3 separate regions of the Homo sapiens genome follow, and regions 1 and 2 are each linked to region 3. The links come from fine-mapping of genetic effects on gene expression. A gene starts in region 3. Each other region holds a variant in brackets. All regions are shown on one strand. Distances are from middle to middle.

What was found.
Region 1: its variant is fine-mapped to the expression of TBC1D7 in neutrophils (BLUEPRINT, PIP 0.95).
Region 2: its variant is fine-mapped to the expression of TBC1D7 in whole blood (INTERVAL, PIP 0.97).

The regions. Positions count from the first base shown.
Region 1 is chr6:13,238,449-13,246,723 of GRCh38, forward strand. All of the region lies in intron 10 of PHACTR1 (phosphatase and actin regulator 1), which reads left to right. Among named protein-coding and RNA genes, the nearest start is that of TBC1D7, 86 kb to the right of the region's middle. The variant C/CA (reference allele first, on the strand shown) is at 3,421.
Region 2 is chr6:13,206,009-13,214,283 of GRCh38, forward strand. PHACTR1 (phosphatase and actin regulator 1) reads left to right here. Exons shown (of 15, transcript NM_030948.6): 8 at 1-128. It also overlaps the pseudogene RNU1-11P. Among named protein-coding and RNA genes, the nearest start is that of TBC1D7, 120 kb to the right of the region's middle. The variant A/G (reference allele first, on the strand shown) is at 3,582.
Region 3 is chr6:13,323,968-13,331,967 of GRCh38, forward strand. TBC1D7 (TBC1 domain family member 7) reads right to left here and starts at 4,570. Exons shown (of 8, transcript NM_016495.6): 1 at 4,329-4,570; 2 at 2,820-2,939; 3 at 1,127-1,207. The coding sequence starts at 2,931. TBC1D7-LOC100130357 (TBC1D7-LOC100130357 readthrough) reads right to left here and starts at 4,570. Exons shown (of 9, transcript NM_001318809.2): 1 at 4,489-4,570; 2 at 2,820-2,939; 3 at 1,127-1,207. The coding sequence starts at 2,931. It overlaps LOC124901261 (a long non-coding RNA gene), which reads left to right and starts at 4,648. Exons shown (of 2, transcript XR_007059457.1): 1 at 4,648-4,931; 2 at 5,758-5,890. RefSeq lists a silencer at 4,386-4,775 and an enhancer at 4,409-4,915.

The DNA.
Region 1 (8,275 bases), 85 kb before region 3:
ATAGAAAAAGTATCCTAAATCTGTATTTTATACTCCTAAGTAGTCTACACCATTGTTGCTATAAGCAGAATATGAAATAATATGTACCAAGGATTATGCGCTGCTTTAAATCATGGTACGGTGTTCAAGAGAGAAAATTGAAATCCATTTTTTATGCTTGTAGCACAGGCAATAAAATACAGTAATCTTGACTTCTAAATGTAGTTTGGGTAGTGTTTATGGTTGGGGAAAATTGGTGCGGTGAGTCTGACACACCGACACCTAGCTCCAAAGTGCCAAATAGTGTCTCCCCAGGAATCTAAGGACTAATGCTGAGTGTGAGCTGGCATCTCCCCTGGCTAGGTAATTTCTTCTGCTGCAGAAACACTTTCTAAAAATAGGAATAACAATAAAAGGCTCTATGATGTCAATTCAACTTGGACTTACTTAGTGTCCCTGGATACGTGTCACTGTGAATTACCACTCCAAAGAAAAAAGGAAGGAAAATAGACTGGAGTGAAGTTTTAGAGGCCATGCTTGTAGGCCTAGCCCTTGAGGTTGTGCGCCATTATCATCACCATCATCATCCTCCTCCTCATCCTCATCTTCATCTCAGCTGTGGAGGAGCAGGGAGTGGGGCACAGCTTAGGGGGCACAGGAGAGAAACGGAAAGACCGCCCTGGTATTCGCTCATCTTCAGATCCACAAAGCCTGGGTGGGGGTGGCTCAGGCCAGGGAGACTTCCCATAAAACTGGGAGGATTCTGAGACCTCCCATAAAACTGAAGGAAGACGCCAGTCACCAAACTGAAATTGTGTGTTGGGAGCAAGTCAGGTCAGGGTGAGCATAACTTGAATGTATTTATTGAGTTCTACAACATTTGTACCACAAATGCGTGGACTTCGTGTAGCTAAGCTGCTTTCAGGTAATTTGACATCTTTTATGAACTCACTGCACGCAATAGAAAATCCTTTTTGAGAGCTCTTTGGGAATGCTGACATCTTCTGAAAGGTGCTCAGATGAGCTCAGGCTATAGCACTACCTGTTTGATAGAAAGTTAAAGAAACCACATGTTCGCTGGGGCTTATTTAAAAAAAAAATCAATGGAAGGTGAGAAAGCTGTCTGGATAAGAAGACTTGAGCAAGACGCATTGGAAGGAGGTAGAATAAAACTTCAAAACCACACATGTAGAGGTTCTGGCATTGAGCCATGGGTCACAGCCATCACAGGGACCTACAGCCATTGAACATGTCTCAGAGCCCTTGCAGGGATCTGCATGGCCTCTTGCCCTCTTACCCAGCCTCTAGCTGTTAAGAGCTACAGCAAAGACTGAACTCTTGACATCCTGTTGCTAGGACAGAGTTTCTGAGCCTCGACTCTGTGTGTATGTCCATGCCTGTGTGTCAGGAGGAGAGGAGGCCCCGTCTGCAAGCCCAGTACCGCATGTTGAGGAGCAGAGCCACATCTTGGAGAGCACCGTTAGTTCTCTGCATCTGTGACTTGCGGCTGCCCCGGCAGTCTGTACATTTTTCAGTGATACAGTAAGTGTGGTGGACAAAGAGCTGCCTTTTACCCAGTGGGAACACAATCGATCTTAGTGTTTAAACTTGCAAAGTTTCTTTAAAAAAAAAAAAAAGTGGCCATTCTTGGAGGTTGTGAGTCTTACTTTGTTTTATATTTCATAGCTTTTTTAAACAACTGATTATTCCAGCAGCATTTCAAATTTTGGGTGCAGGGGGTGGGGAGAGCACAGCTATACTCAACTGCAGACTAAGCAGGGAATGGATGAATCTTCTGGGCTGCATGGTCACATTTTAAGAGGCTCTTCTTAGGGTAGATGAAGAGGAAGCTTCAAAGACTGGGCTGTTTATTACTCACAGCAACTTTTTGTTCTCAGGTGATTTTCCCCTAATCTGTAATGATTGTTCTTGTTTGTTAATCTAAGCAGAAGGCAGAAGAAAGGCTGTGTTTCTTAGGATATTCGTTGTGGGTTTTTTTTTGTTGTTGTTTTTTTGTTTTGTTTTGTTTTGTTTTGAGATGGAGTCTGACTTTGTTGCCCAGGCTGGAGTGCAGTGGCGCAATCTTGGCTCACTGCAACCTCCACCCGCCCCAGGTTCAAGTGATTGTCGTGCCTCAGCCTCCCAAGTAGCTGGGACTACAGGAGTGTGCCACCACACCTGGCTAATTTTTGTATTTTTAGTAGAAATGGGGTTTTGACCTGTTGGTTGGGCTGGTCTCAAACTCCTGGACTCAAGTGATCCGCCCACCTCAGCCTCCTAAAGAGCTGGGATTACGGGCATGAACCACTGTACCCAGCCAGGATATTTGGCTAAGTGAAAGAAGAATCAATCCATCTACATTTAAAGACCTCTCAGGGCGAAGGTCCCTGATACGTGCCATTTATAACTTTAAAGCCTGTTGCTGTAGATAAAGTGTTTCCCCATCAGCACCTCATCTAATAATCTCCATGCAACCCTGCAAGGTGGCCGCTACTGGGAATCCCATTCTGTAGATGAGGAAACTGAACCAATGATCTCAGAGATGATAAAGGGCAAAGAGAAGCACATCTTCTAAATCCAGGGTTTTCCTATTTCTGGCAAACCCACTGGAAAAAATGTGTAGTTTGGTTGAGTTTTTATGTTGAACAGAGCTTCCCTCCCAAGGACCTGTGGTTTGGTAGGTATCTTGGTGGACTGTAGAGTTCCACAGTGGCAGTGGGTCAAGCTATGTGCAAATGTACTCAAGGGAGAGATAAGGCATGGAATGAAGAAGAGGAAAGGAGATGTTCTTCTATCTCGGGCTTAACTGGGCTTTTTTATTGCATTTCAGTAATACCTGTGCCTGTTGCAATGTGGGGAACAGAGGTCCAATGCAGTGGTTCTCCTGGTGTGGCCCTTGGGCTAATGGCATCAGCATCCCCTGGGAATTTGTTGAAAATGCATATTCTCAGGCCCCACCCCAGACCCAGAATCAGAAATTCTTGGGCCGGGTGGGAGGTGGCGTGCAGGAATCTGCATTTTAACCAGCATGATTCTGATGCACACTAAAGTTTGAGAAGCAATGGGCTAGTAAGAAGAGAAATCAAAGACTTTGGAGCTGGACCTGAGCTTGAAAGCTCTTCACCACTTACTAGCTGGGCCCCTGTCAAGCCTTAGTTTCCACATCTGTAAAACGGACCTCCCACACAAGGTCATCCAGAGCACCAAATGAGTAAGACTTTCAACTGTAGTAGATAATGAATGCTAGTTCCTTCCCTCTCCTGGTGAGTCTGAATACTGTATCATGCTCGACTCTTATTAGAAAAAGTAATGCTGGGTGGGCGCAGTGGCTCACACCTGTAATCCCAGCATTTTGGGAGGCCGGGGCAGGTGGATCACTTGATATCAGGAGTTCAAGACCAGCCTGGCCAACAAGGTAAAACCCCATCTCTACTAAAAATG[C/CA]AAAAAAAAAAAAACCTAGCCAGGTGTGGTGGCACAGGCCTGTAGTCCCAGCTACTTGGGAAGCTGAGGCAGGAGAATCGCTTGAACCCAGGAGATGGAGGTTGCAATGAGCTGAGTTTGCACCACTGCACTCCTCCGGTCTGGGCAACAGAGTGAGATTCTGTCTCAAAAAAAAAAAAAAAAAAAAGGAATAAGTAATGCTAGTTGCCCTAACAGGAAAATCCTAAATCCCAGTCACCTAAAGCAGCAAAGGTTTATTTCTCACTGGAGTTAAGCCTAATGTGGATCTGGTAGCCTTGATCCGTCAGATAGCCATTACATGCTTCTAGAACACATGACTCCAATCTCAATAGCAAGGGAAGAGCAGGCAGAGGAGGCACACACATCACTTCTGCTCACAGTCCATTCATCAGAACCCAATCTCACTTCAAGGGAGTGTGGAAAACATAGAGAAGCACACGCAGTGTTGGATGAGCGTAAAGGACCTTTTCCACAATTCCACTGAGCCTACAGTTGCCACACAGGTCTTTAGGTCATGATTCTTGCACTTGTGTAAAGGGACTGTCACAGCTATAAGAGACTTGATTAAAAGACTTTCCACAATTAGCAGTTGGAATTCAGGGGCACCAGGTACATCTGAATGGAGCATATCACCTGGATTGCCAGAGGGGTCTGTCTTGGGGCGAGTACATGGAGGTCACTAATGCCCATGGTCTATATCAATGAATTTGCACCTAAGGCTAAGTTTAGTAAAGCAACTTATGGAAATCAAAATGATCTCAATTTGAGAAAACAGACTCAAAAAAATCAACATTGCTTTTGCTTTAAAGGAAAAACTAGCTTAACTACAACTGAGAAATCACAAAAAGGAACAGTGGACTTTGAGCTCGAGTGAGTTTGTTTTATATGAGTTTAAGGTTAAATTTCCAGGGAAACAAGTTACTAAGGGAGAACATGGGAACCTCAGCTTCAGCCAGTTGATTCAGTTGGAAACTATTGATTAAGCACCAACTGTGTGCACAGCTCTGTAATGGGTGTTATTTAAAAGGTAGCTAGATAATTATGCTTCTCAGAAGGTTTAGATGAGTGAGTCAAAGTATGCTTACTGTTTTCTGCTTTCAACTGGAAAAGACACAGCAAGTTCCATGAAGAAGGCGCAGATCTCTCTGTAGCAAATTCTTTTATGGGTGTGAATGTATTTTAGATTATTTCTCTTGCCATTTTTTTTTCCTTTAAAATATCCCCCAAAAGAATGGGAATGAGTCAGGGCTCTGATCATGTAAACACTGAATAATCTGAACATCTGATTCTGAGGTTTTTTTCCTCTTAAACTTGTGCATTAATGTGAACAACTTCAACTTGAGTTGTCAGACCACTTTTTTTTTTTTTTTTGCGAGATGTTCTTTTTTTCTTTTCTACAACCTTATAACCACTTATGAGCTTAAAACAGCCACAAAGATGTGTCATTTCTCTCATAATTTTACCATGAAAGGATTTCTCAGTCACTTGTGAACTTACCAGGAGGCAATGAATAAACTCTGATTTAAATCATTTTATGAAGCATCCAAATAATGGCCTAAACCTTGGTTAAAAGGTGATTTTACTGCAGGGAATATTCAAATATCTCATCTAGGCCTTTCAGACTGGCTCAGAGATTTTTGTCACTGTGTGGACCTTGGGCCTATGACTTGTTGGAAACTCTTTAATGAGTTTCTTTTAAAAGAAAAAAAAAACCTTAGGTTCAAGGGTACACGTACAGGTTTATTATAGAGATAAATTCCATATAGTGGGGGTTTGGTTTACAAATTATTTTGTCACCCAGGTAATAAGCATAGTACCTGATAGGTAGTTTGGTAGTTTTTTGATCCTCAACCTGCTCCTACCCTCCACCCTCATGCAGGCCCCAGTGCCTGTTGCTTCCTTTTTTGTGTCTTTGTGTACTCAGTGTTTAGATCCTACTTGTAAGTGAGAACATGTGGTATTTGGTTTTCTGTTCCTGTGTTAGTTTGCTAAGGATGATGGCCTCCAGCTCCATCAGTGTTACTGCAAAGAACATGATCTCATTCTTTTTTATGGCTGCATAGTATTCCATGGTGTATATGTACCACATTTTCTTTATCCAGTCTGCCATTGATGGGTATTTTTTCAGGGGACCTGCCCCGATAATCACGTAGGTTCTTTTCTAGTTTCCCTAAGCATCGGCTGGCTTGAGAAATAAAGGGACAGAGTACAAAAGAGAGAAATTTTAAAGCTGGGCGTCCGGGGGAGACATCACACGTTGGTAGGATCCATGATGCCCCACAAGCCACAAAAACCAGCAAGTTTTTATTAGGGGTTTTCAAAAGGGGAGGGAGTGCGCGAATAGGTGTCGGTGACAGACATCAAGTACTTAACAGGGTAATAGAATATCACAAGGCAAGTGGAGGCAGGGCGAGATCACAGGACCACAGCTGCCAGGCGAAATTAAAATTGCTAATGAAGTTTCGGGCACCATTGTCATTGATAAAACATCTTATCAGGAGACAGGGTTTTGAGATCAACCAGTGTGACCAAAATTTATTAGGTGAGAATTTCCTCTTCCTAATAAGCCTGGGAGCGCTATGGGAGACAAGTTTATTTCACCCCTGCAGTCTCAACCATAAGAGACAGGTACGCCCCGGGGGGCCAGTTCAAGTTCAGAGACCTAACCCTAGCTGCACATTCTCTTTCTCAGGGATATCCCCTGCTGAGAAAAAGAATTCAGCGATATTTCTCCCATTTGCTTTTGAAGGAAGAGAAATATGGCTCTGTTCTGCCCGGCTCACCGGCAGTCAGAGTTTAAGTTTCTCTCTCTTATTCCCTGAACAATTGCTGTTATCCTGTTCTTTTTTCAAGGTGCCCACATTTCATATTGCTCAAACACACATGCTGTACAATTTGTGCAGTTAATGCAATTATCACATAGTCCTGAGGCGACATACATCCTCCTCAGCTGACAGGATTAAGAGATTAAAGTAAAGACAGGCATAGGAAATCACAAGGGTATTGATTGGGGAAGTGATAAGTGTCCATGAAATCTTTACAATTTATGTTTAGAGATTGAGTAAAGACAGGCATAAGAAATTACAAAAGTATTAATTTGGGGAACTAATAAATGTCCGTAAAATCTTCACTATCCATGTTCTTCTGCCATGGTTTCAGCCGGTCCCTCTGTTTGGGGTCCCTGACTTCCCGCAACAGTATTTAGGTTGATTCCATGTCTTCACTGTGGGCAGTGAATAGTGCTGTGATGAACACACATGTGCATGTGTCTTTATGGTAGAATGATTTCTGTTCCTTTGGGTATATACCCAGTAACGGGATTGCAAGGTCGACGGGTAATTCTGTTTTAAGTTCTTTGAGAAATAGCAACTGCTTTCCACAATGGCTGTTTACAATCCCACCAGTAGCATGTAAGCATTCTCTTTTCCCCACAACCTTGCCAGCATCTATTATTTTTTGACTTTTTAATAATAGACATTCTGACTGGTGTGAGATGATATGTGGTTTTGATTTGCATTTCTCTAATAATTAATGATGTTGAGCATTTTTTCATGTTTGTTGGCCACATGGATTTCTGTTTTTGTAAAGTGTCTGTTCATGTCCTTTTTAATGGGGTTGTTTGTTTTTTGCTTGTAAATTTAAGTTTCTTATAGATGCTGGATATTAGACCTTTGTTGGACGTATAGTTTGCAAATATTTTCTCCCATTCTGTAGCTTGTCTGTTTACTCTGTTGACAGTTTCTTTTGCTGTACAGAAGCTCTTTGGTTTAATTAGGTGCCATTTGTCAATTTTTTTTTTCGTTGCAATTGCTTTTGGCATCTTCATGAAATCTTTGCCAGGTCTTGTGTTCAGAATGGTATTTCCTAGGTTATCTTCCAGGGTTTTTATAGTTTTAGGTTTTAAGTCTTTTAATCTATCTCGAGTTGATTTTTGTATATGGTGTAAGGAGCAGGTCCAGTTTCAATCCCCTGCATATAGCTAGCCAGTTATCCCAGTTCTTTGGTGAGTTTCTTCACCCACTTCACAACTGTATCATTAGGATCTCAGAGTGTAATAGAACATTTTAGAACTTAAATGGACATTTACTATCACTGCATCTAGCCTTAATTTTACAGGTAAATGGCTGATAGAGGCTACACTACTAGCCAAGTTCACACAGTAATTTCTGACAAACTAGGATTTAAAATAAAGTCCTCTGACCCAGTCGGTGCTTAAAATTAATATCTCTCAAAAAAGAGAGAGAAATAGATCATGTTTTACTGGAATAAACAGGCCAGTTGTTAGTTAGCAACCATAACAACTCATATATCTTCGTTGATTTTCTCAAAAGAAAAATAAATAATGTGGAGGTTTTGAATGAAATCTTTAAAAAACATATTCAGTTATCAAAAGGCCCATGTAAAAGGAATCCTTGAATTCTCCCACAGATACATTCTTTCACGGCCACCATGATCTTCCTTGATCCCACTTAGCCAAAAGAACACTGAAATTAAATGTGCGAGCGAAAGATGTTTCCCTACCTGGATGGCTGATGGTTCATTACAGCTGAGCAAAGTCTCATTAATCATTTTGAAAACTAGGCAGGTACTCTGGAAAATTCTTTTGCTGGTACCTTAATTTAGAGTTGGCCTATTCTTGTGATTCTTTCAAATGATAAGTGAAACTCTAATCATGTATACTTATTAAGAATTATCTGTTCTTTGTTTCAGTGGTGAAGTTGGCATTTCCAGTCTATAATTTCCATTGCATATAGTGCTCTTTCTCCCTCACCCACCAAATTTGGCTTCAGGCTTGATGGGATGTGATTTTTCTGTAGCCCCTATACAGAGCTTG
Region 2 (8,275 bases), 120 kb before region 3:
CTGCAGTACGGCAGCCACGGCCAGCACCTCCCCTCCACCACCGGCTCCCTCCCCATGCACCCCTCGGGCTGCAGAATGATAGACGAGCTCAACAAAACGCTGGCCATGACCATGCAGAGGCTGGAAAGGTAAAGGTGGGCACCAGGAGGGAGGACGGGAGGAGAGGGGTTGGCTGGGGAGGGGGGCCTAGGGATTTGGACCATGACTTAGGAATGTGAACAAGGGGTCATCCCCACTGGGGGAAAATGTTTGAAAGTAAAATGAGACAAAAAACTGAAGGTCAAAGCATGGAAAAAAAAAATGTTGCCAATTGAAAAGCTCTGGAATAATCACATTTATCGGAAAGAAAAACTAACATTCATGTATATATGTATATGCTTATATATACACACAGTCCTCAGTGTCATTAGTAGGTTCGTGAAAATTGCAACTTCAGTAAAATAAAATCTAACAAAACCAACTTAACCATAGACTAATTGATATAAACAAGACTTAAGTTCCTATAGCATATTTCTGGTCACAAAAATATCACCAAACTTCTAAATAAAGACCACAACACTTCTAATATTAAACATTGAAATAAATGTGAGCTGTACATACATTTAAGAAAGGTTAATAAAAACAAAGAAGATGATTACCCAATTATTCCAGTTCCGGGTGGTGGCTAGCCAGAGCATGTCCTAGCAGCCCAAGGCACAAGGCAAGATCTGGCCCTGGTCAGACATCATCCCCTCACAGGGCACACTTACACCCACACCCACACCCACACTCACTCAGACCTAGGACAGTGTAGACATGCCATTTCACCTGACATATACATCTTAGGGATGTGAGAGGAAACCTGAGTACACGGAGAAAACCCATGCAGTCGTGGGGAGAACGTGCAGACTCCACACAGACGATGGCCCCAGCTGGGAATCAGTTTGTTTTTTTTTTCTCATCAATGTTATGGCAAAATGACATTGAATGAAATGACCTTATTCAAGGACCTGCTGTATATCCATCTTTGCATACGTGTGAGTGTACGCACATACACATGTACACACACACACATGCATGCACACATGCACACGCACATGCACGCACATATTGTGTCTCTATAAGCATTAATGTTTTGTGGAAAAATGTATACGTAGTCATTAATAGCATTTATTCCTGGTGTGGTGAAATGGGGAGAAAATACTTTTATATTTCATATCTTTCTATAGTACTTTTTAATTCTGTGTATATTACTTTTATGATACTCAAAAGAATTAAAATATGAAATAAGAAAAGATGAGGACTGGCAGGTGTTGGAGGGAAACAAGAGGGCTGGGGAAGGTGGGAAGGTATACCCTGTTCTTGCTGATGGAGGAAGCAGAGTCCCAGGCTCTGATTATGTGCACTTGTGAGGCTAATATTTGGCCACTACCAAGGCAGCTCCCTCTTTCACCAGAATATGCCTCCAGTCGCTCTTCGGGGAGAGCTGCAAAGATGACCCCACAGGCAGGCCTGCAGCCACGACCCTAACTCCTCACCACATAGGGAGATCTCTCAAACTGGTTCTCAATTACTCTTGATTGTGTATACACACATGAGTGTATGTGTGTGTGTGTGTGTGTATTCAAACACCGCCACCTACCTCACATCCAAGAAGGCACTGGGATTTCCCACTGGGGCTCTGAGGCACATTGCTTGACTGAGTGCCCTGGTGTAACAAGGAGAAAGTATGATTATGAGGTGCAAAGGGTATCTCTGACTGTGAGCTGAATGCTTGTCCCATAGTAGTGGCTGCTGGTCATTGGGTCCTACAGATGGAAAATGGCAGTATGGAGGTCCCAGCGAATCACCAGAGAGCTAAAAGCGAGATGCACAGGCGGGAGCTTCGGGTTGTGTTTTCCTGACTCTCGGTGGCTTTCTCTGCTCCTGCCTGTCAGCTGAGTATTCTGCATTTGGGAAAGGAGTGATTCACTGGGAGGTTGCTGTGTCTAGGAATTCTGACTTGATTGTTTGGTGTTAACACCTGCCCTTGCTGCAAAAGGAAAAAAACAAAACTTAATTTGGCCCCTTGCTGTCATTGGCAACTATTCTTGTTATTAATTAGAACAATAATAATTTAAAATGTGGCTGGCACGTTTTAATCTATTACACATACACATTGTCATCACTGTCATTGTCATCTTATTTAATCCTCACATCATCTACGGAAACGGAGTAGATGGAGAAACTAAGGGAGGTTCACTAAGTTCCCCAAAGCCACCTTCTCAAAGGGTGGCCCACAAATGGCTTATCTCACATCTGCAACCACGTAAGTGCAGACATTGAGAACAAGTTTTAGATACTCTTACAGCAATATGACAGAATAATTTCATGTCTGTTGAATCTTGTCATTAAAAAGGGCTTCATTATTTTTACATTTGTATTATATTTTACAAAAGCATCAGTTTGTGATGGATCGAAAATGGAAAGAACTAAACAGTAAGAACTGTTTCTTCCCTGTAGATGTTTGGAAAACACTACCCTAGGTAGTAAGTTGAGAGGCTAAGCCTCCAGCCTGGGTCTTCCCTCTCCAAGTCCAGAGATCTTTGTACTAACACACAGCTGCTTCCTAAGGACATGTAGCAGCCAACGTCATTGCTGCCCACCCCCCCAACCCCATGTCTACATGCACCCACTAAGTTTTCATATCTCTCATGAGCGTCAATCATCAGAAAAGATACTTGGATAGCATGTTAATAGTATATTGCTAAATATGCTTCCACTTAAAAAAAACACCATATTAAAAGGTTCAATTAAAGATGCTAACTGACAAGTTTTATAATATCTGTGGGTATTTGCGGGATATTTCAGTTTAATTTAGACCAATGGGTAGATCTAGTCGGATAAGGGAATTTTGGTGGGGGCAGGGTATGCAGCATGATCTCGGCAGCAGAGCCAAGGCAGTCTCTGCGCTTTGTCCCAACTCAGAGTCATTTCCTCCTTCTTTCTCCCTCACTTCCCACTCGAGGTCAAAGCATAGGGTTGTCCTAACAGACCAACCAGGCTGCAGAGATTAATGCATGCATCAGTTTGACAAGATTGCCACCCCAGAGAAAGAGAGGCCCTCTTCCCAAACAAAGACCATCCCAGAGGCCCTCTTCCCAAACAAAGATTGGAGAGATTTTTCTGTGTGTCTCCAGTCATCTCCAGGAAGAATCTCAAAATAGGCCAAGGTCACAGGCCACACTTTTCAGTGTAGGGAGGGAATCACCAGCTGTCTTGGGTGATTTCCCCCTGATTTTTACTGCCTAAAAATTCTCCCTGTTGCCTGTCAACATGATTTCATTCTTGTTCTAACCAAGTTTTATACAGAAAGAAAGAATCATTTCTCTATCCTCCTGGCAATTTCCAGTGACCCCAAAAAACTCTGCAAGAAGGGAGAGGCATTACCAAACACTCAGGCATCCTGCCTTTAAAGTTCCTTGGACCGACCCCCTGTTTGGGCCATTGCTGCCCCCTGAAATCTCAAAGAATGTCACACCATAGGCCATCGGTCCAGATGGACAGTCTGATCCTGATGAAAAAGTTATAGGTAATATACAAAGTTGAATGGTGAATTAAAC[A/G]GCATCAATGCCTGACACTGGACCATACATTTGCACAAGTCATCTTATCAATGAAAGGGGCCTTGAAGACCATCCAGGCCACCAAGCCCCTGCTCACAGCAGTGTTCCTGACCATTTATCCTCTGGTCTCTGCTCCAACAGGACGTTCCCCAGGTCCCAACATAGCCTGCTTCATTGTCAAGAAGGTCTGACTGTTAGAAAGTTCCCTCTCTATTAAAAGTTTTACTTACTGAAATTTGTATCTGCCCCTTCCCGATCTTATTTCTAATCTTCCTTTCCTGTAAAAGGCTTTTAAATCTTTGAAGATAGCTACCATTCCCTTCATTTAAGGACTTCTCTAGATCTTATACCATCTTGTTCGTGTTCCCCTGAGATTATACCAAATCTGCTCTGATTTATATGGAGAAGTTACTTTTTATTTATATTTTTTATTTTTGAGACAGCATCTCACTCTGGCACCCAGGCTGTAGTGCAGTGGCATGATCATGTCTCTCTGCGGTCTCGACCTTCCAGGCTCAAGCAATTCTCCCACCTCAGCCTCCTGAGTAGCTGGGATCACGGGTGCACGCCACCATGCCCAGTTAATTTTTTTTTATTATAGTTTTTGTAGAGATGGGGTTTTGCCATGTTGCCCAAACTGGCATCGAACTCATAGTCTAAAGTGATCATCCTGCCTCAGCCTCCCAAATTTCTGGCATTACAGGTGTAAGCCATGGCACACACCTGCAGAGAAGTTCTTAGACACTACCTTGCCTAAGCCTGCTTGATGGCACTAAACAATGGCGTGGTTATTTACAGCTTTGGCTCACAAGATTTGGGGGAAGGAGCTAGAATCCACTTGAAGCAAATTTAAAGGGTCATATTTATTCAAAATCACAGGGTTGCCCTAGGCAGTGGGGTCCGAGCTGGTGGCATCACACACCCCTACTTCAGGACAAAGTGTGTGGGTTCCAGAATTAACTGCCGGAGTTTGAGTCTTAGACACACCACGTATTAGCTGTGTGACCCAAAGCGTATGGCTCAACCTCTTTTTGATTTTCATGCCTTATCTGTAAAATAAAAATAATCATAATGCCAGCAGCCTCATTAGGGTCATTTGTAAGGATCAGATTATTTAATGAATCCAAATCAGTGGGGTTATTGCATGTCACACAGTAAGCAAATGGTATTGAACATTAGCCAGCATGGAAAATTTGTCTTCAGTGACCCTAGAATGGTTTGGGTAAGTCTGTTTGTTTGGGTAAGTTTCCTCAAATTAGATTATCTTCATTCCCCTCACCCTGGTGAGCCACATCTTTTGGAAGATGATGGTTTATCATTTCTTTTTTTTTTTTTTTTTTTTTTGCATTGAGATTTCCCCTCAACTTTCCATTCTAATAAATAACACTGCATTTTTTCCCCATTTTTGTACTTAAATCTTTGCTAGCCTTTACTCTTGTTCTTAAGAAACAAGCTTTTCTTAAAGTCATTAAAGAGTTGAATTCATGATTATTTAGTGACCCTGTTGTGGAACAACTTTTTATTTGTTTATTTTTATTTTTATTTCAATCGTTTTTGGGAAACAGGTGGTTTTTGGTTACATGGATAAGTTCTTTAGTGGTGATTTCTGAGGTTTGGGTGCACCCATCACCCGAGCAGTGTACACTGTACCCAGTGTGTAGTCTTTTATCCCTCACCAGCCTCCCACCCCTCCCCCTGAGTCCCCAAAGTCCATTATATCATTTTTATGCCTTTGTTATCATTTCAAAGATGATGCAGTGTTTTTATTTTTAATATCTGCAGTAAGCTCCGTGATCTAGTTGGCATCAATCCTAGAAGTCAGATGTAAAGTCCTAATCAGGACGCCGTTTCTTTCTGATCTTAATTCGGCTGATCTCTGTGTTCCAGTCTCCTATTAGTAAAATGAAGGTGGAATGTGGATCCATGTGGACCCTGAAGGAATTTTAGGAAGATTCTTAATGGAATGCACTTTAAAGAAGTCTTTCCCTTCTCAATTAAAGGCAACTTCACACTTTCAGTCGCTCATGCCAAAGACCTGGAGTCACCCTTGACCCCTTCCTTTCTCTGGTTCCCCACATCTGACTGTCCGCAAATCCTGTCTGGTCCACACTGTACATACACAGGGATAAGACCAACACTTCTACATGCTCCTTCTTCTCCTGCCTGAGCCTCAGTCGGCCTTGCCTGGCTTACTGCAGTTTCTCCCACCTGTTCTTCTGTGTCCACACCTGCTCTGCAGCCCATCCCCACTACAACAGCAAAAGAGACAGGGTTTGAGGAAAGTCAGATCGTGACTGTCTTTGTCTGCAAGGACTGCCATTTAAAAACACACACACACACACAATGCGTGACTTAGATGACAGAAATTTATTGTCTTTCAGTTCTGGACGCTAGAAGTCCGAGATCAAGGTGCCAACAGGGTTGGTTTCTCCTGGGGACTCTCTTCTTGGCTTGTAGGTGGTGTCTTCTCTCTGTGTCCTCACGTGGTCTTCCCTCTGTGTGTGGTTGTTCCTCATCTCTGCTTATAAGGACACCAGTGATAGTGGATTAGGGCCCACACCACTGACATCATTGTAACTCCCTCACCTCTTTAAAGACCCTACTTCCAAATACAGTCACATTCTGAGGCACTGGGACTTAGGACTTCAACATATGAATTTATCTGGGGACACTGCTCAGCTCTTAACAATGTCTGTGCCCAAAATGCTTCTGTCGCTGTCCAACTCACTAAGAGTAAAAAGCAAAATCCTCCCCATGGCCCAGAAGCCCACACCCACTCCAAGTTCTTTTGCAAAGAAAAATCTACTTACTCTTCAAGACATTATTAAAATACCAGGTCCTCTGTGACCCCTTCTCAGATTCTGGTACAGATCTCTGCCCTCCTGCACACACCCCTTTTGCATACTTGCATCAGGTTATGTGTTTCTCTCTATATTCTGTCTTTAATGTGGACAGGAACCATCCTTGTCTCCTCATCTGCTATGGTTTGAGCGTCTCTTCTCCAAAATTCAGGGTTGAAACCTGAGTATTAACGGACTGCCCCTGTGGTCTCCCTCGCTTCATCAGCTCCCCTCTCTGTTGCTCCCTCCTCCCTCACACAGCGGCCTTCCCACCATTCTCGCACATTCTCGGACATTCTCGGACGTGCCGGACACCTCCTGACGGGGCCTTGGCACTGGCTGTTCCCCTGGACGGACTGCCCTTCCCTCAAATATCCTCAGGGCTCCTACACTCACCTGCCTCGGGTCTCTACTCAAATGTCACATCCTCAATGAGGCCCTTCCCGTTCAATATTGCAACCCTCCTCGCAACACAGCCTGTTCCCCAGCTCCTTTTATTCCTATCAAAGCATTTTTCACCATCTAACGTTTTGTGTCATTTGCCTTTCATTCGGTTTGTTGCTCTTCTCACCTAATAGAACATACAGTCCACAAGGGCAGGAACTGTTTTGTTCATGGCTGTATCCAGAGTGCCTACAACAGGGCCTGGCTTATAGGTTTGAGTGAGTGAGTGAGTGAGTGAGTGAGTGAAAGAATAACTGAATGAATGGAGAGCCTCTCATAGCTGCAGTGATATTCTTTCACTTATTAATCTGCTTCCTATTGATGGATTGAGTTCTCACAAGGCATATGTTATATAAATATTAAGCAGTATTAGTGGTCTTTAACCTTTTATATTTTCTTTATTCTAACAATTTGAACTGTTCCCTCTGTTTGGAATGCACTCTCTTACATCCTGTCCTCTACCACCCAGAGCAGCTTCTTTCACAAAGAAAAATTCTTGTTCTTCAAGACATTAAAATACCAGGTCCTCTGTGATCCCTTCTCAGATTCCCATACAGAGCTCTGCCCTCCTGCACACACCCCTTTTGCATACTTGCAACAGGTTATGTGTTTCTCTGTATATTCTCTCTTTAATGTGGATGGGAACCATCCTTGTCTCCCCATTTGCTATGGTTTGAGTGTCTCTCCTCCAAAATTCAGGAGTTGAAACTTAATGGCCAATGTCTTAGTATTAACAAGTGGGGCTTTGAAAAGGTGATTAGGCCATGAGGGCTCCTCCCTCATGAACGACATTAAGACCCTTGTGAACTGGACTTCACACAGCAGCATAAAGCCCTCTTGGCCTTCCACCATGTGAGCGTGCCGCGTTTCTCCCAGCCAGAGGCTGCAGCCCTCACCAGACAGCCAAACCTGCCAGCGCCTTGATCTTGGACTTTCCAGCCCCGACAACTGTGAGGAAATACATTTCTGTTCTTCTTAAATTACCCAGTCTTGGGTATTTTATTATAGCAGCACAAATGGGCCACAATCTGCCATAGTACCTGTCATGTAGGAAGTATTCTGAAACTATTTATGGAGTGGGTTTCATTAAAAGTTACTCTAATCTTTGAAATAGAAAAATATCTTACTTTTATGATCAATGTTTTGTTACAAACTGTCTCAATTATAGAAACAGGCTTTTGCATACTTACCTGGCAGTGGAGATACCATGATCACGAAGGTGGTTTTCCCAGGGCGAGGCTTATCCATCGCACTCCGGATATGCTGACCCCTGCGATTTTCCCAAATGTGGGAAACTCGACTGCATAATTTGTGGTAGTGGGGGACTGTGCTTGCGCTTTCCCCTGAAAAAAAAAAAAGCAAGAAAAGAAACAGGCTTTTGCTGAGGATCCACTCCTGCTTCCCCTGTTG
Region 3 (8,000 bases):
GGATTCTAGGATTACTCTGTATAATCTATGTAAACTACTCAGCCTACTGACAGGCATACAGGGATGCCCAATAAGGAGCAATCATAGTTTATATTCTTCAGGGAATTTAGTACTCGCCACTATCTTACAGTGAACAAACTGTAAGTTTTTTTTTGTTTGTTTTTTGTTTTTTTTTTTGGAGACGGAGTCTCGCTCTGTCGCCCAGGCTGGAGTGCAGTGGTGCCATCTCGTCTCACTGCAACCTCTGCCTCCCGGGTTCAAGCGATTCTCCTTCCTCAGCCTTCCAGGTAGCTGGGACTACAGGCGCATGCCACCATGCCCAGCTGATTTTTTGTATTTTTAGTAGAGAGGGGGTTTCACCCTTGTTGGCCAGGATGGTCTCAATCTCCTGACTGCGTGATCTGCCCGCCTTGGCCTCCCAAAGTGCTGGGATTCCAGGTGTGAGCCACCGCGCCCAGCCAAAAATACTTTTTTTAAGAAAGAAAAGGAGGATGGTAATGGATAGGAATTATATGCTCCAGCAGGCTCAGCAATGATAGGGGAAAGAAAATCTTGGGCTCAAAAGGGATGCTGCCAGTTACTCATGGCACTTAATTCACATTTTCTTCCATAGAAACTAAGTAAGATCAGTTTTCCTTCTCACTCAGCCACTCGCACCACTGGAATTTAGTCATTCACACTTCTAGGGAGTAGTAAGTCTCCAATTCCTCTTTGACAGATTAGGAAGTTATACCTCTATAGCTGAGAATCACAAAATCTTACAAATTTAGAGCTAAAAACTAGGAGTAATTTAGCTCAAAAGCTTCAGTTTATAGATGCAAAAAATGAGTCCCAGAGGGGTCGCCTTCCTCCAGGTTACCCAGCTGATAGCAAAGCCTAAACCAATTCTCATTTCTCCTACTCCAATGCTCTTCCCAGATCTTGTCTCAGGAACATAAACTATTTTCTCTTCTATAGTATCATTAATAGAACAGAAAATAATGAGTGGTAATTGAACCTCCTGGGGAAGATCCAATATTCAGTAAAAGGCCTAAACAAATTCTCCTTTTTCTGACTGATAAGATAGCAAATGATCCCTTCATTCAATATTTTTTAAGATAAATCTTCCAACTCCTGGGTCTCATACCTAGAAGCACCTTCCATACCAATGCACGGTACATGGACGGGAGAGGGAACCTCTGACTAAAAGTACAAAGTTTCTCAGTATCTAGAGGAAGAAGAAAACAATTGTTAGAAGCTTTTCATGCTGATCACAGTATGTCAAGGCACATTTCATTTTTTAAAACTCAAAGAATAGTTAAGACATTTCTTCAGGGGAAGTCTACCATATGGTCAGTAAGTTTAGGAGAGGCAATACTAGTCTGATTTCTAGCCCAAGACTTCTGCCAACTAAGTTATTTAAAAACAATTTGCGGCCAGGCACGGTGGCTCATGCCTGTAATCCCAGAACTTTGGGAGGCTGAGGCAGGCAAATCACTAGAGGTCAGGAGTTTGGGACCAGCCTGGCCAACATGGCAAAACACCATCTCTACTAAAAATACAAAAATTGGCTGGGTATGGTGGCACACACCTGTGATCCCAGCTAGTCAAGAGGCTGAGACAGAAGGATCGCCTGAACCCAGGAGGCAGAGGTTGCAGTGAGCCAAGATCGTGCCACTGCACTGCAGCCTGGGCAAGAGTGAGACTCTGTGTTAAAAATAATAATAAAAATAAAAACAATTTGCATTTTACAGCATTGGAGATGCATTTTGCATATATTACTACATTCCCTATAACAGTGGTAGTTATTAATCACAGGGTTTATTTAATTCACACTGCAAGCCTGTTAGGTAGTTCTTGTTCTAAAAATGCAGAAACTGAAGTTCAAAGCAGTTAAATGACTTGATCAAACTAACATAGCTATTAAGTGGTACAGTCTGCCTTCAAATCCCTACATTTTCCAATAAATTACAGTGACTTCCCTGACCCTCAATTCCTCTACTTATCAAAGGAGAATACCAGACATACTAAAGCAAAGACCGCACAATTGAAGATCAAAGATAAGGTGAGAAATGTTTCAGAAACTTTAAAAGTACTCTATGCAAATAAAGTATTATCTTTAACTACGGTTCAGTTTATTTTACTTTAGTCAACAACAGACCTTATTCAGACTGGCTCAAACTAAAATGTCAATATACAATGCACTCTTAGTATTTCCATAAAAGAAAATCATGGGCTGGGCATGGTGACTCCTGCCTGTAATCCCAGCACTTTGGGAGGCCGAGGTGGGTGGATCACTTGAGGTCAGGAATTTGAGACCAGCCTGGCCAACATGGTGAAATCCTGTCTCTACTAAAAATACAAAAAATAGCCAGGCATGGTGGCACATGCCTGTAATTCCAGCTACCTGGGAGGCTGAGGCAGGAGAATCACTTGAACCCAGGAAGTGTAGGTTGCTGTGAGCCAAGATCACACCACTGCACTACAGCCTGGGCAACAGAGTCAGACTTGGTCTCAAAAAAAAAAAAAAAGAAAATCATGACCAGAGTTATCGCAAATTTACCCAGAAGCAAATTTACCTAGATAATACATGAAAACATATGGGTTCAATAAAAGAAAAAAATACTACTGACTTTCTTAAGAAACCTTTCAAAAACTTCTGACGCTCAGTGAAATATAAATTTGAAAAATCTTTTCTCAAAATACACCATTCTGCTTCACCACATCACTAAAAAATACAGCAAGTAACCAATGCTTCTGGATGTCTTTTAAGAAAATATTTACTTCAGAACATGTGGAGTGATTGAGAACCAATGAGATTAATTTTTAAAAGTACTCACCCAGACGGTCATCTTTTAGGAGAATTTCTAATGATTTCTTTTCTTCAACTCCACGAAACCCCACTTTCTCATAATATACTGAACGAAAGTTTCTCTGAGAGTCCTCAGTCATATTTCATTCTTGGAGGAGACACAGAAAGACAGAAAGGGAGAGAAAGACGAAGGGGAAAAGTGAGTCTAGAAACAAAGAGTCAAGAATTAGAATAATTTTCAATGATGTTCTCCACCTTTTCAATATGATGTACCCTTGCATAGGACCCAATATTAAATTTTTCCTTTAACTCAGTTCTGCAACTATCTCACCTATGCATCTTGGCTAAAAACCAAGATATAAGTTAAAAGTTCTCTGAGCTGATAAAATAGATGGCACAAGGTTTATGCACTAGGTTTCCCACTATACCTATGAGTGCCTAGCACAATAGAACATTCTGTAGCTATTATAAATGCGCAAAGAAAAAAAATAAGTGAAATGGAAGCCAGGCAAGATACGTCAAGCAAATTATACTCAAACAGTATACACTATGATTTCATTTTTTGTTTTTTACAAATTTCATGTATTTTAAAACTTAACACTCTATTCCAAAATGTTAGCAATGGTTATCTTTAGATAGTAGGATTCTAGATGATTTTAATTTCCTTTCTTTTGCTTAGCTACTTTTTTTTAAATGGGCATTTTGTAAAATGAAAAATTAAGTTATATAAAAGTAAAAAGCCACGAGTTCCTCACTTATCTTTCTTTTAAACACAATTCTATTAAGTGTAGCTATCGAAATTCAAAACCCACAACAAATAAATCGCATTAAATTATAACTAGAAGAGGGTAAAGAATGTAGCCAATTGACAGTGATCCCAAAGTCAGAGTTGAAGACGGAAAAACGATTTAAAATCTACCGCAAGAACTCAAAAAGTTCAGTGGTCTCAAGTTCCTTCACAGTAACCTTCATAATACTGGCGGTAATTCATCCAAAAAAAGACCAAGTTAGATTTGGCGTTTCAAGAACAGAAAAGATCTGATGCATTTCCCAAAAAGCACTGCACTGCCTCACCCAAATGCTTCCAGCGTCTGTGCACAAAAGAGTAAATCTTTAGGTTTAAAAACCCTGCGACGTCCCCAGTGAGCAGGGGAGGGCTTCCTTCCTTATTGAAAAGATATCCTCTGAACCGATTCAGTCACAGGAAAGATTAGGATTCGTTTAGAAAATGAAATGCTAAAGGGCTCTGAGCTTTCGGGAGCAGATGTCTTAAAAATAAAAAAGTCAGCAGCATAAAACGCGTAATGAGTGTGGGGATTTATTTTTTTAAAGCATCCAAACAGCTGCATGACGATTTGGTCGGTCCCTGTTGTCTAAGGACACCCATTCTTAGATTGCACTACAATGACAAAGGCGTCCTCTAGGAGGAAATGCTGCAAATAATATCTCCTGCCCATGCGCGTCCACCTGATGGGAAAAGTAAAAACACCCTGGTCCAAGACCCCAGGTCCCATTCTCTCTATGATGGATGCTTCACCTCTAGTAGTGCAAACACACCCGGGTTGAGACTAAGTGGTCCGGGAGAAGCAGAGGAAGCCGTGCCCTGTGCGCTGACCGACCGCCGGGCAGGCGGGCACCGTTGGGGCCCAGGGCCAGGAGGGACGAGTCCTGCGGGAAGGAGGGAGGCGGCGGGGTACCTGGGACACCCGCGCGCGCCCAGACGGCCCGGGAGACAAAACTCAGCGCCGCTGCCGCTGCCGCTGCCGCCGCCGCCGGACGTGACATCAACTCCAGGTCGCCGGGCGGGCGCCGGGCGGGCGCATGCGCAGAGGGCGCGGGCAGGAAGCTCCACCCTCACTCCAGGAAGCTCTGGCTTCGTTTGTGAAACCCGACGGGATGAAGGGCTAGGCTCGCCTCCAGAGTAGTGTAGTTTCTCCCGCCGTGGGCACCCGGCCCCTTGCTACCCCGCAAAATCTCGCGACCATTTACTCTGGCCATCCGAAGGCGCGTGCCTGGGTTGCACTCCCGTGTCCGGCCCTCGAGGTTCTTGCCTAGGGAAGACCCGAGCCCTAGGGCCGTACTTAAGCTGCCTGCGTGCAGGACCCGGGTTTTGCTTTTGCTAATTTCCTCCCCACCCCAGGTATGTGGGAATAGATGAAGACCATCCGAATGAGAAGAAAAAAGGCAGGCAGAGGAGTGCAAGTCTGATTTAGAGCAGGCAGGCTCCCTGGGTTGGTTATTGTAGGTAACTGACTGGTTTTCTGGGCAGGTTGCTGCAGGTTGTGGATTGGAGGTCTATTTTTATATTAGATTTGGCCATTGTCTTAGTATATTCAGCCTCTCAGGTAAAACACTATAACATAGGAGAAAAATGAACGTGTTTTTTTTTTAAAAAAAGATGTGCTAAATGCAAGCTCCTAATTTGTTATTAGTAGGTCTAACAGAACAGAGTTACTCTTTAAAGTAGCTACTAACACTTACAAATGCTTTCTATTTCTGTGCTTGCCTCCCTGGTCCTCGGGCTGGCTGAGCAGCAGTGCCCAAGTAGGTTTTTAAACCGCCAGGGTTTGAGAGAAATCCCCAATGATGGGTATCGTCCCTTTGAAAGTTCAAATCTCTACCAAATAAGCCACACGGATGCCAAGCTTTGAAGGAAACTTAGGACTATCAACAGTGCAGAAGTCCAGTTATAGTGCAGACAAATGTGTGTATAATGGCTAGACAGAACTTAAAAATGAAGAAACGTGTGGTGGTTGAACTCAAACACTGATGCCCCTCCCCACTCCCTTACCACCACCATCTTTAGTTCCTCAGTACTGGGGTACTAAACCTTCCTTGGGTAGTGTTCACATGAGTAAGCAGAGTTCTTCAAGTTACCTTACACAAGTTCCATTTACTTCATCTAAACCTTGGGCCGGTCACTAACTTTTATAATTGCCTTTTCTTGTCTTTAAAATCATCACCAGGGCTGGGCACTTACTGTGTGCAGGCGCTGTTCTATGGACTCAGGATACATCAGCTACCGAAGCAAAGATCCCTAACCTTGTGAAACTGACATTCTGGTGGGAGGACAGATCCAATAAAAACTAAAATAAATAAGTCAATGATGTAGTGTGTTAAAAAGTGATCGGTGCTGGCTGGGCGCCGTGGCTCATGCCTATGATCCCAACACTTTGGGAAGCCGAGGCAGGCGGATCACCTGAGGTCAGGAGTTCGAGACCAGCCTGGCCAACATGGTGAAACCCTGTCTCTAGTAAAAATACAAAATTAGCTGGGTGTGATGGCACACACCTGTAATCCCAGCTACTCTGGAGGCTGAGGCAGGAGAATCGCTTGAACCCGGAAGGCAGAGGTTGCAGTGAGCTGAGATGGTGCCGCCGCACTCCAGCCTGGGCAACGAGAGAAATTCCATTTCAAAAAATATTAATAATAAAATAAAATCATCACCAATGGTGATTATATAGAAGGTGGGAAGGGTTAAATGAGAAAGTATGTAAAGTGCTTGGCATGGTGCCTGGCATGTGGCACAGTAGGGATATATGTGAATTGGCTGTGTCAAGATCAATTAAAAATGCAAAGATGAGTCTCTAAATCATTTTATTTGGGAAAACAGAATTGCAGTTCAGGGCATACACACAGACTGGGGTGGTCTTCAGAACAACAAAGAGATGGTTGGAGGTTTCATTAGAGAAATGTTATGTATTACCTTGAAAGATAGCTCATTGACCCTAAGCAAAGTTTTTAGGAACAGGCAAGCTCTAATTTGTGAGAGAAGGTGGTAAGTAAAACTAGTCTTAGAGTTACAGCAATTCGTTTCAGCAGCTACTGGGTGAAACTGGTCTTCAGGTTATAGCAGGTCACCTTGGCAGCTGGCTTTCAATATAATTCCTGGGCAGGCACTTTGTGCCCCAACTGCTTTCTCTTCTCCCTCATCTCTGGACTCTAATTTAGCTGGGTATGAAGATTACTCCAATTCATACAATCAATTTTCAAGACTGCTGTTCACTGAATGGTGACAGCAATATGGGTGCCTTCAACTGCCCTCCATTCTGTTTTTTGATGAGCTGATAACAGAATATGTGGAAGCTTCCCTAAGAGATAACACTTTGAGACTTTTGTCAACTCTGCAGCCAGAATGAATCTAAAAATATCCCTCTGCAAAAAATCCTTCAGTGGCTCCCCATTTCTCTCAAAGGAAAAACTGAAGTGCTCACAACAGCTTACAACACTTCTCATGGTCTACCTCCTTGTACCTCAGTCTCAGCTACTATGAGTGACTCCCCTGCCTTGGGACCTTCTCATGTTCCCTCTGCCTGAAACACATTATCCTCTGCTAGCCACATGGCCCACTCACTTACCTCAGTCTCAATCAAATGTCCCCTCCCTGAGGCTACTTTCCCCACCCTACCTAAAATTGCAACACTTTACCTGAATCCCAATCCCCTGTATGCAGTTCTACCTTTTCCTTCTTTCACAGCAATGATCCCATTTTTTTTTTTTTTTTTTTTTTGAGACAGTTTTGCTCTTGTTGCCCAGGCTGGAGTGCAATGGTGCGACCTTGGCTCACTGTAACCTTCACCTCCCGGGTTCAAGCGATTCTCCTGCCTCAGCCTCTGTAGTAGCTGGGATTACAGGCCCCCGCCACTGCGCCCAGCTAATTTTTTGTATTTTTAATAGAGATGGGGTTTCACCATGTCGGCCAGGCTGGTCTCAAACTCCTGACCTCAAGTGATCCACCCGCCTCGGCCTCCCAAAGTGCTGGGATTACAGGCCTGAGCCACAGCGCCCGGCCAGCACCGATCACTTTTTAACACACTACATTACTGACTTATTTATTTTAGTTTTTATTGGATCTGTCCTCCCACCAGAACGTCAGTTTCACAAGGTTAGGGATCTTTGCTTCGGTAGCTGATGTATCCTGAGTCCATAGAACAGCGCCTGGCACACAGTAAGTGCTTAATATAGACTTCTAAACAAATGAAAAGGGCTATCACACAATGTGAACAGGTGGCCATTCGTTCTTACAGTTGCATATTTGAGTTGTGAACTGTCAGCATTATTAGTCACTGGACTCTTAGCATAACACAGATTATAGAATGGAGTTGTCAGGCAATAAAATTTTGTGGAATTTAATTGAAATAAGACTTGTAAAACTCACAGGTGTACTTCACTGTAACAGGCATCACTCCTTTCTTGTAATATTTCTGCC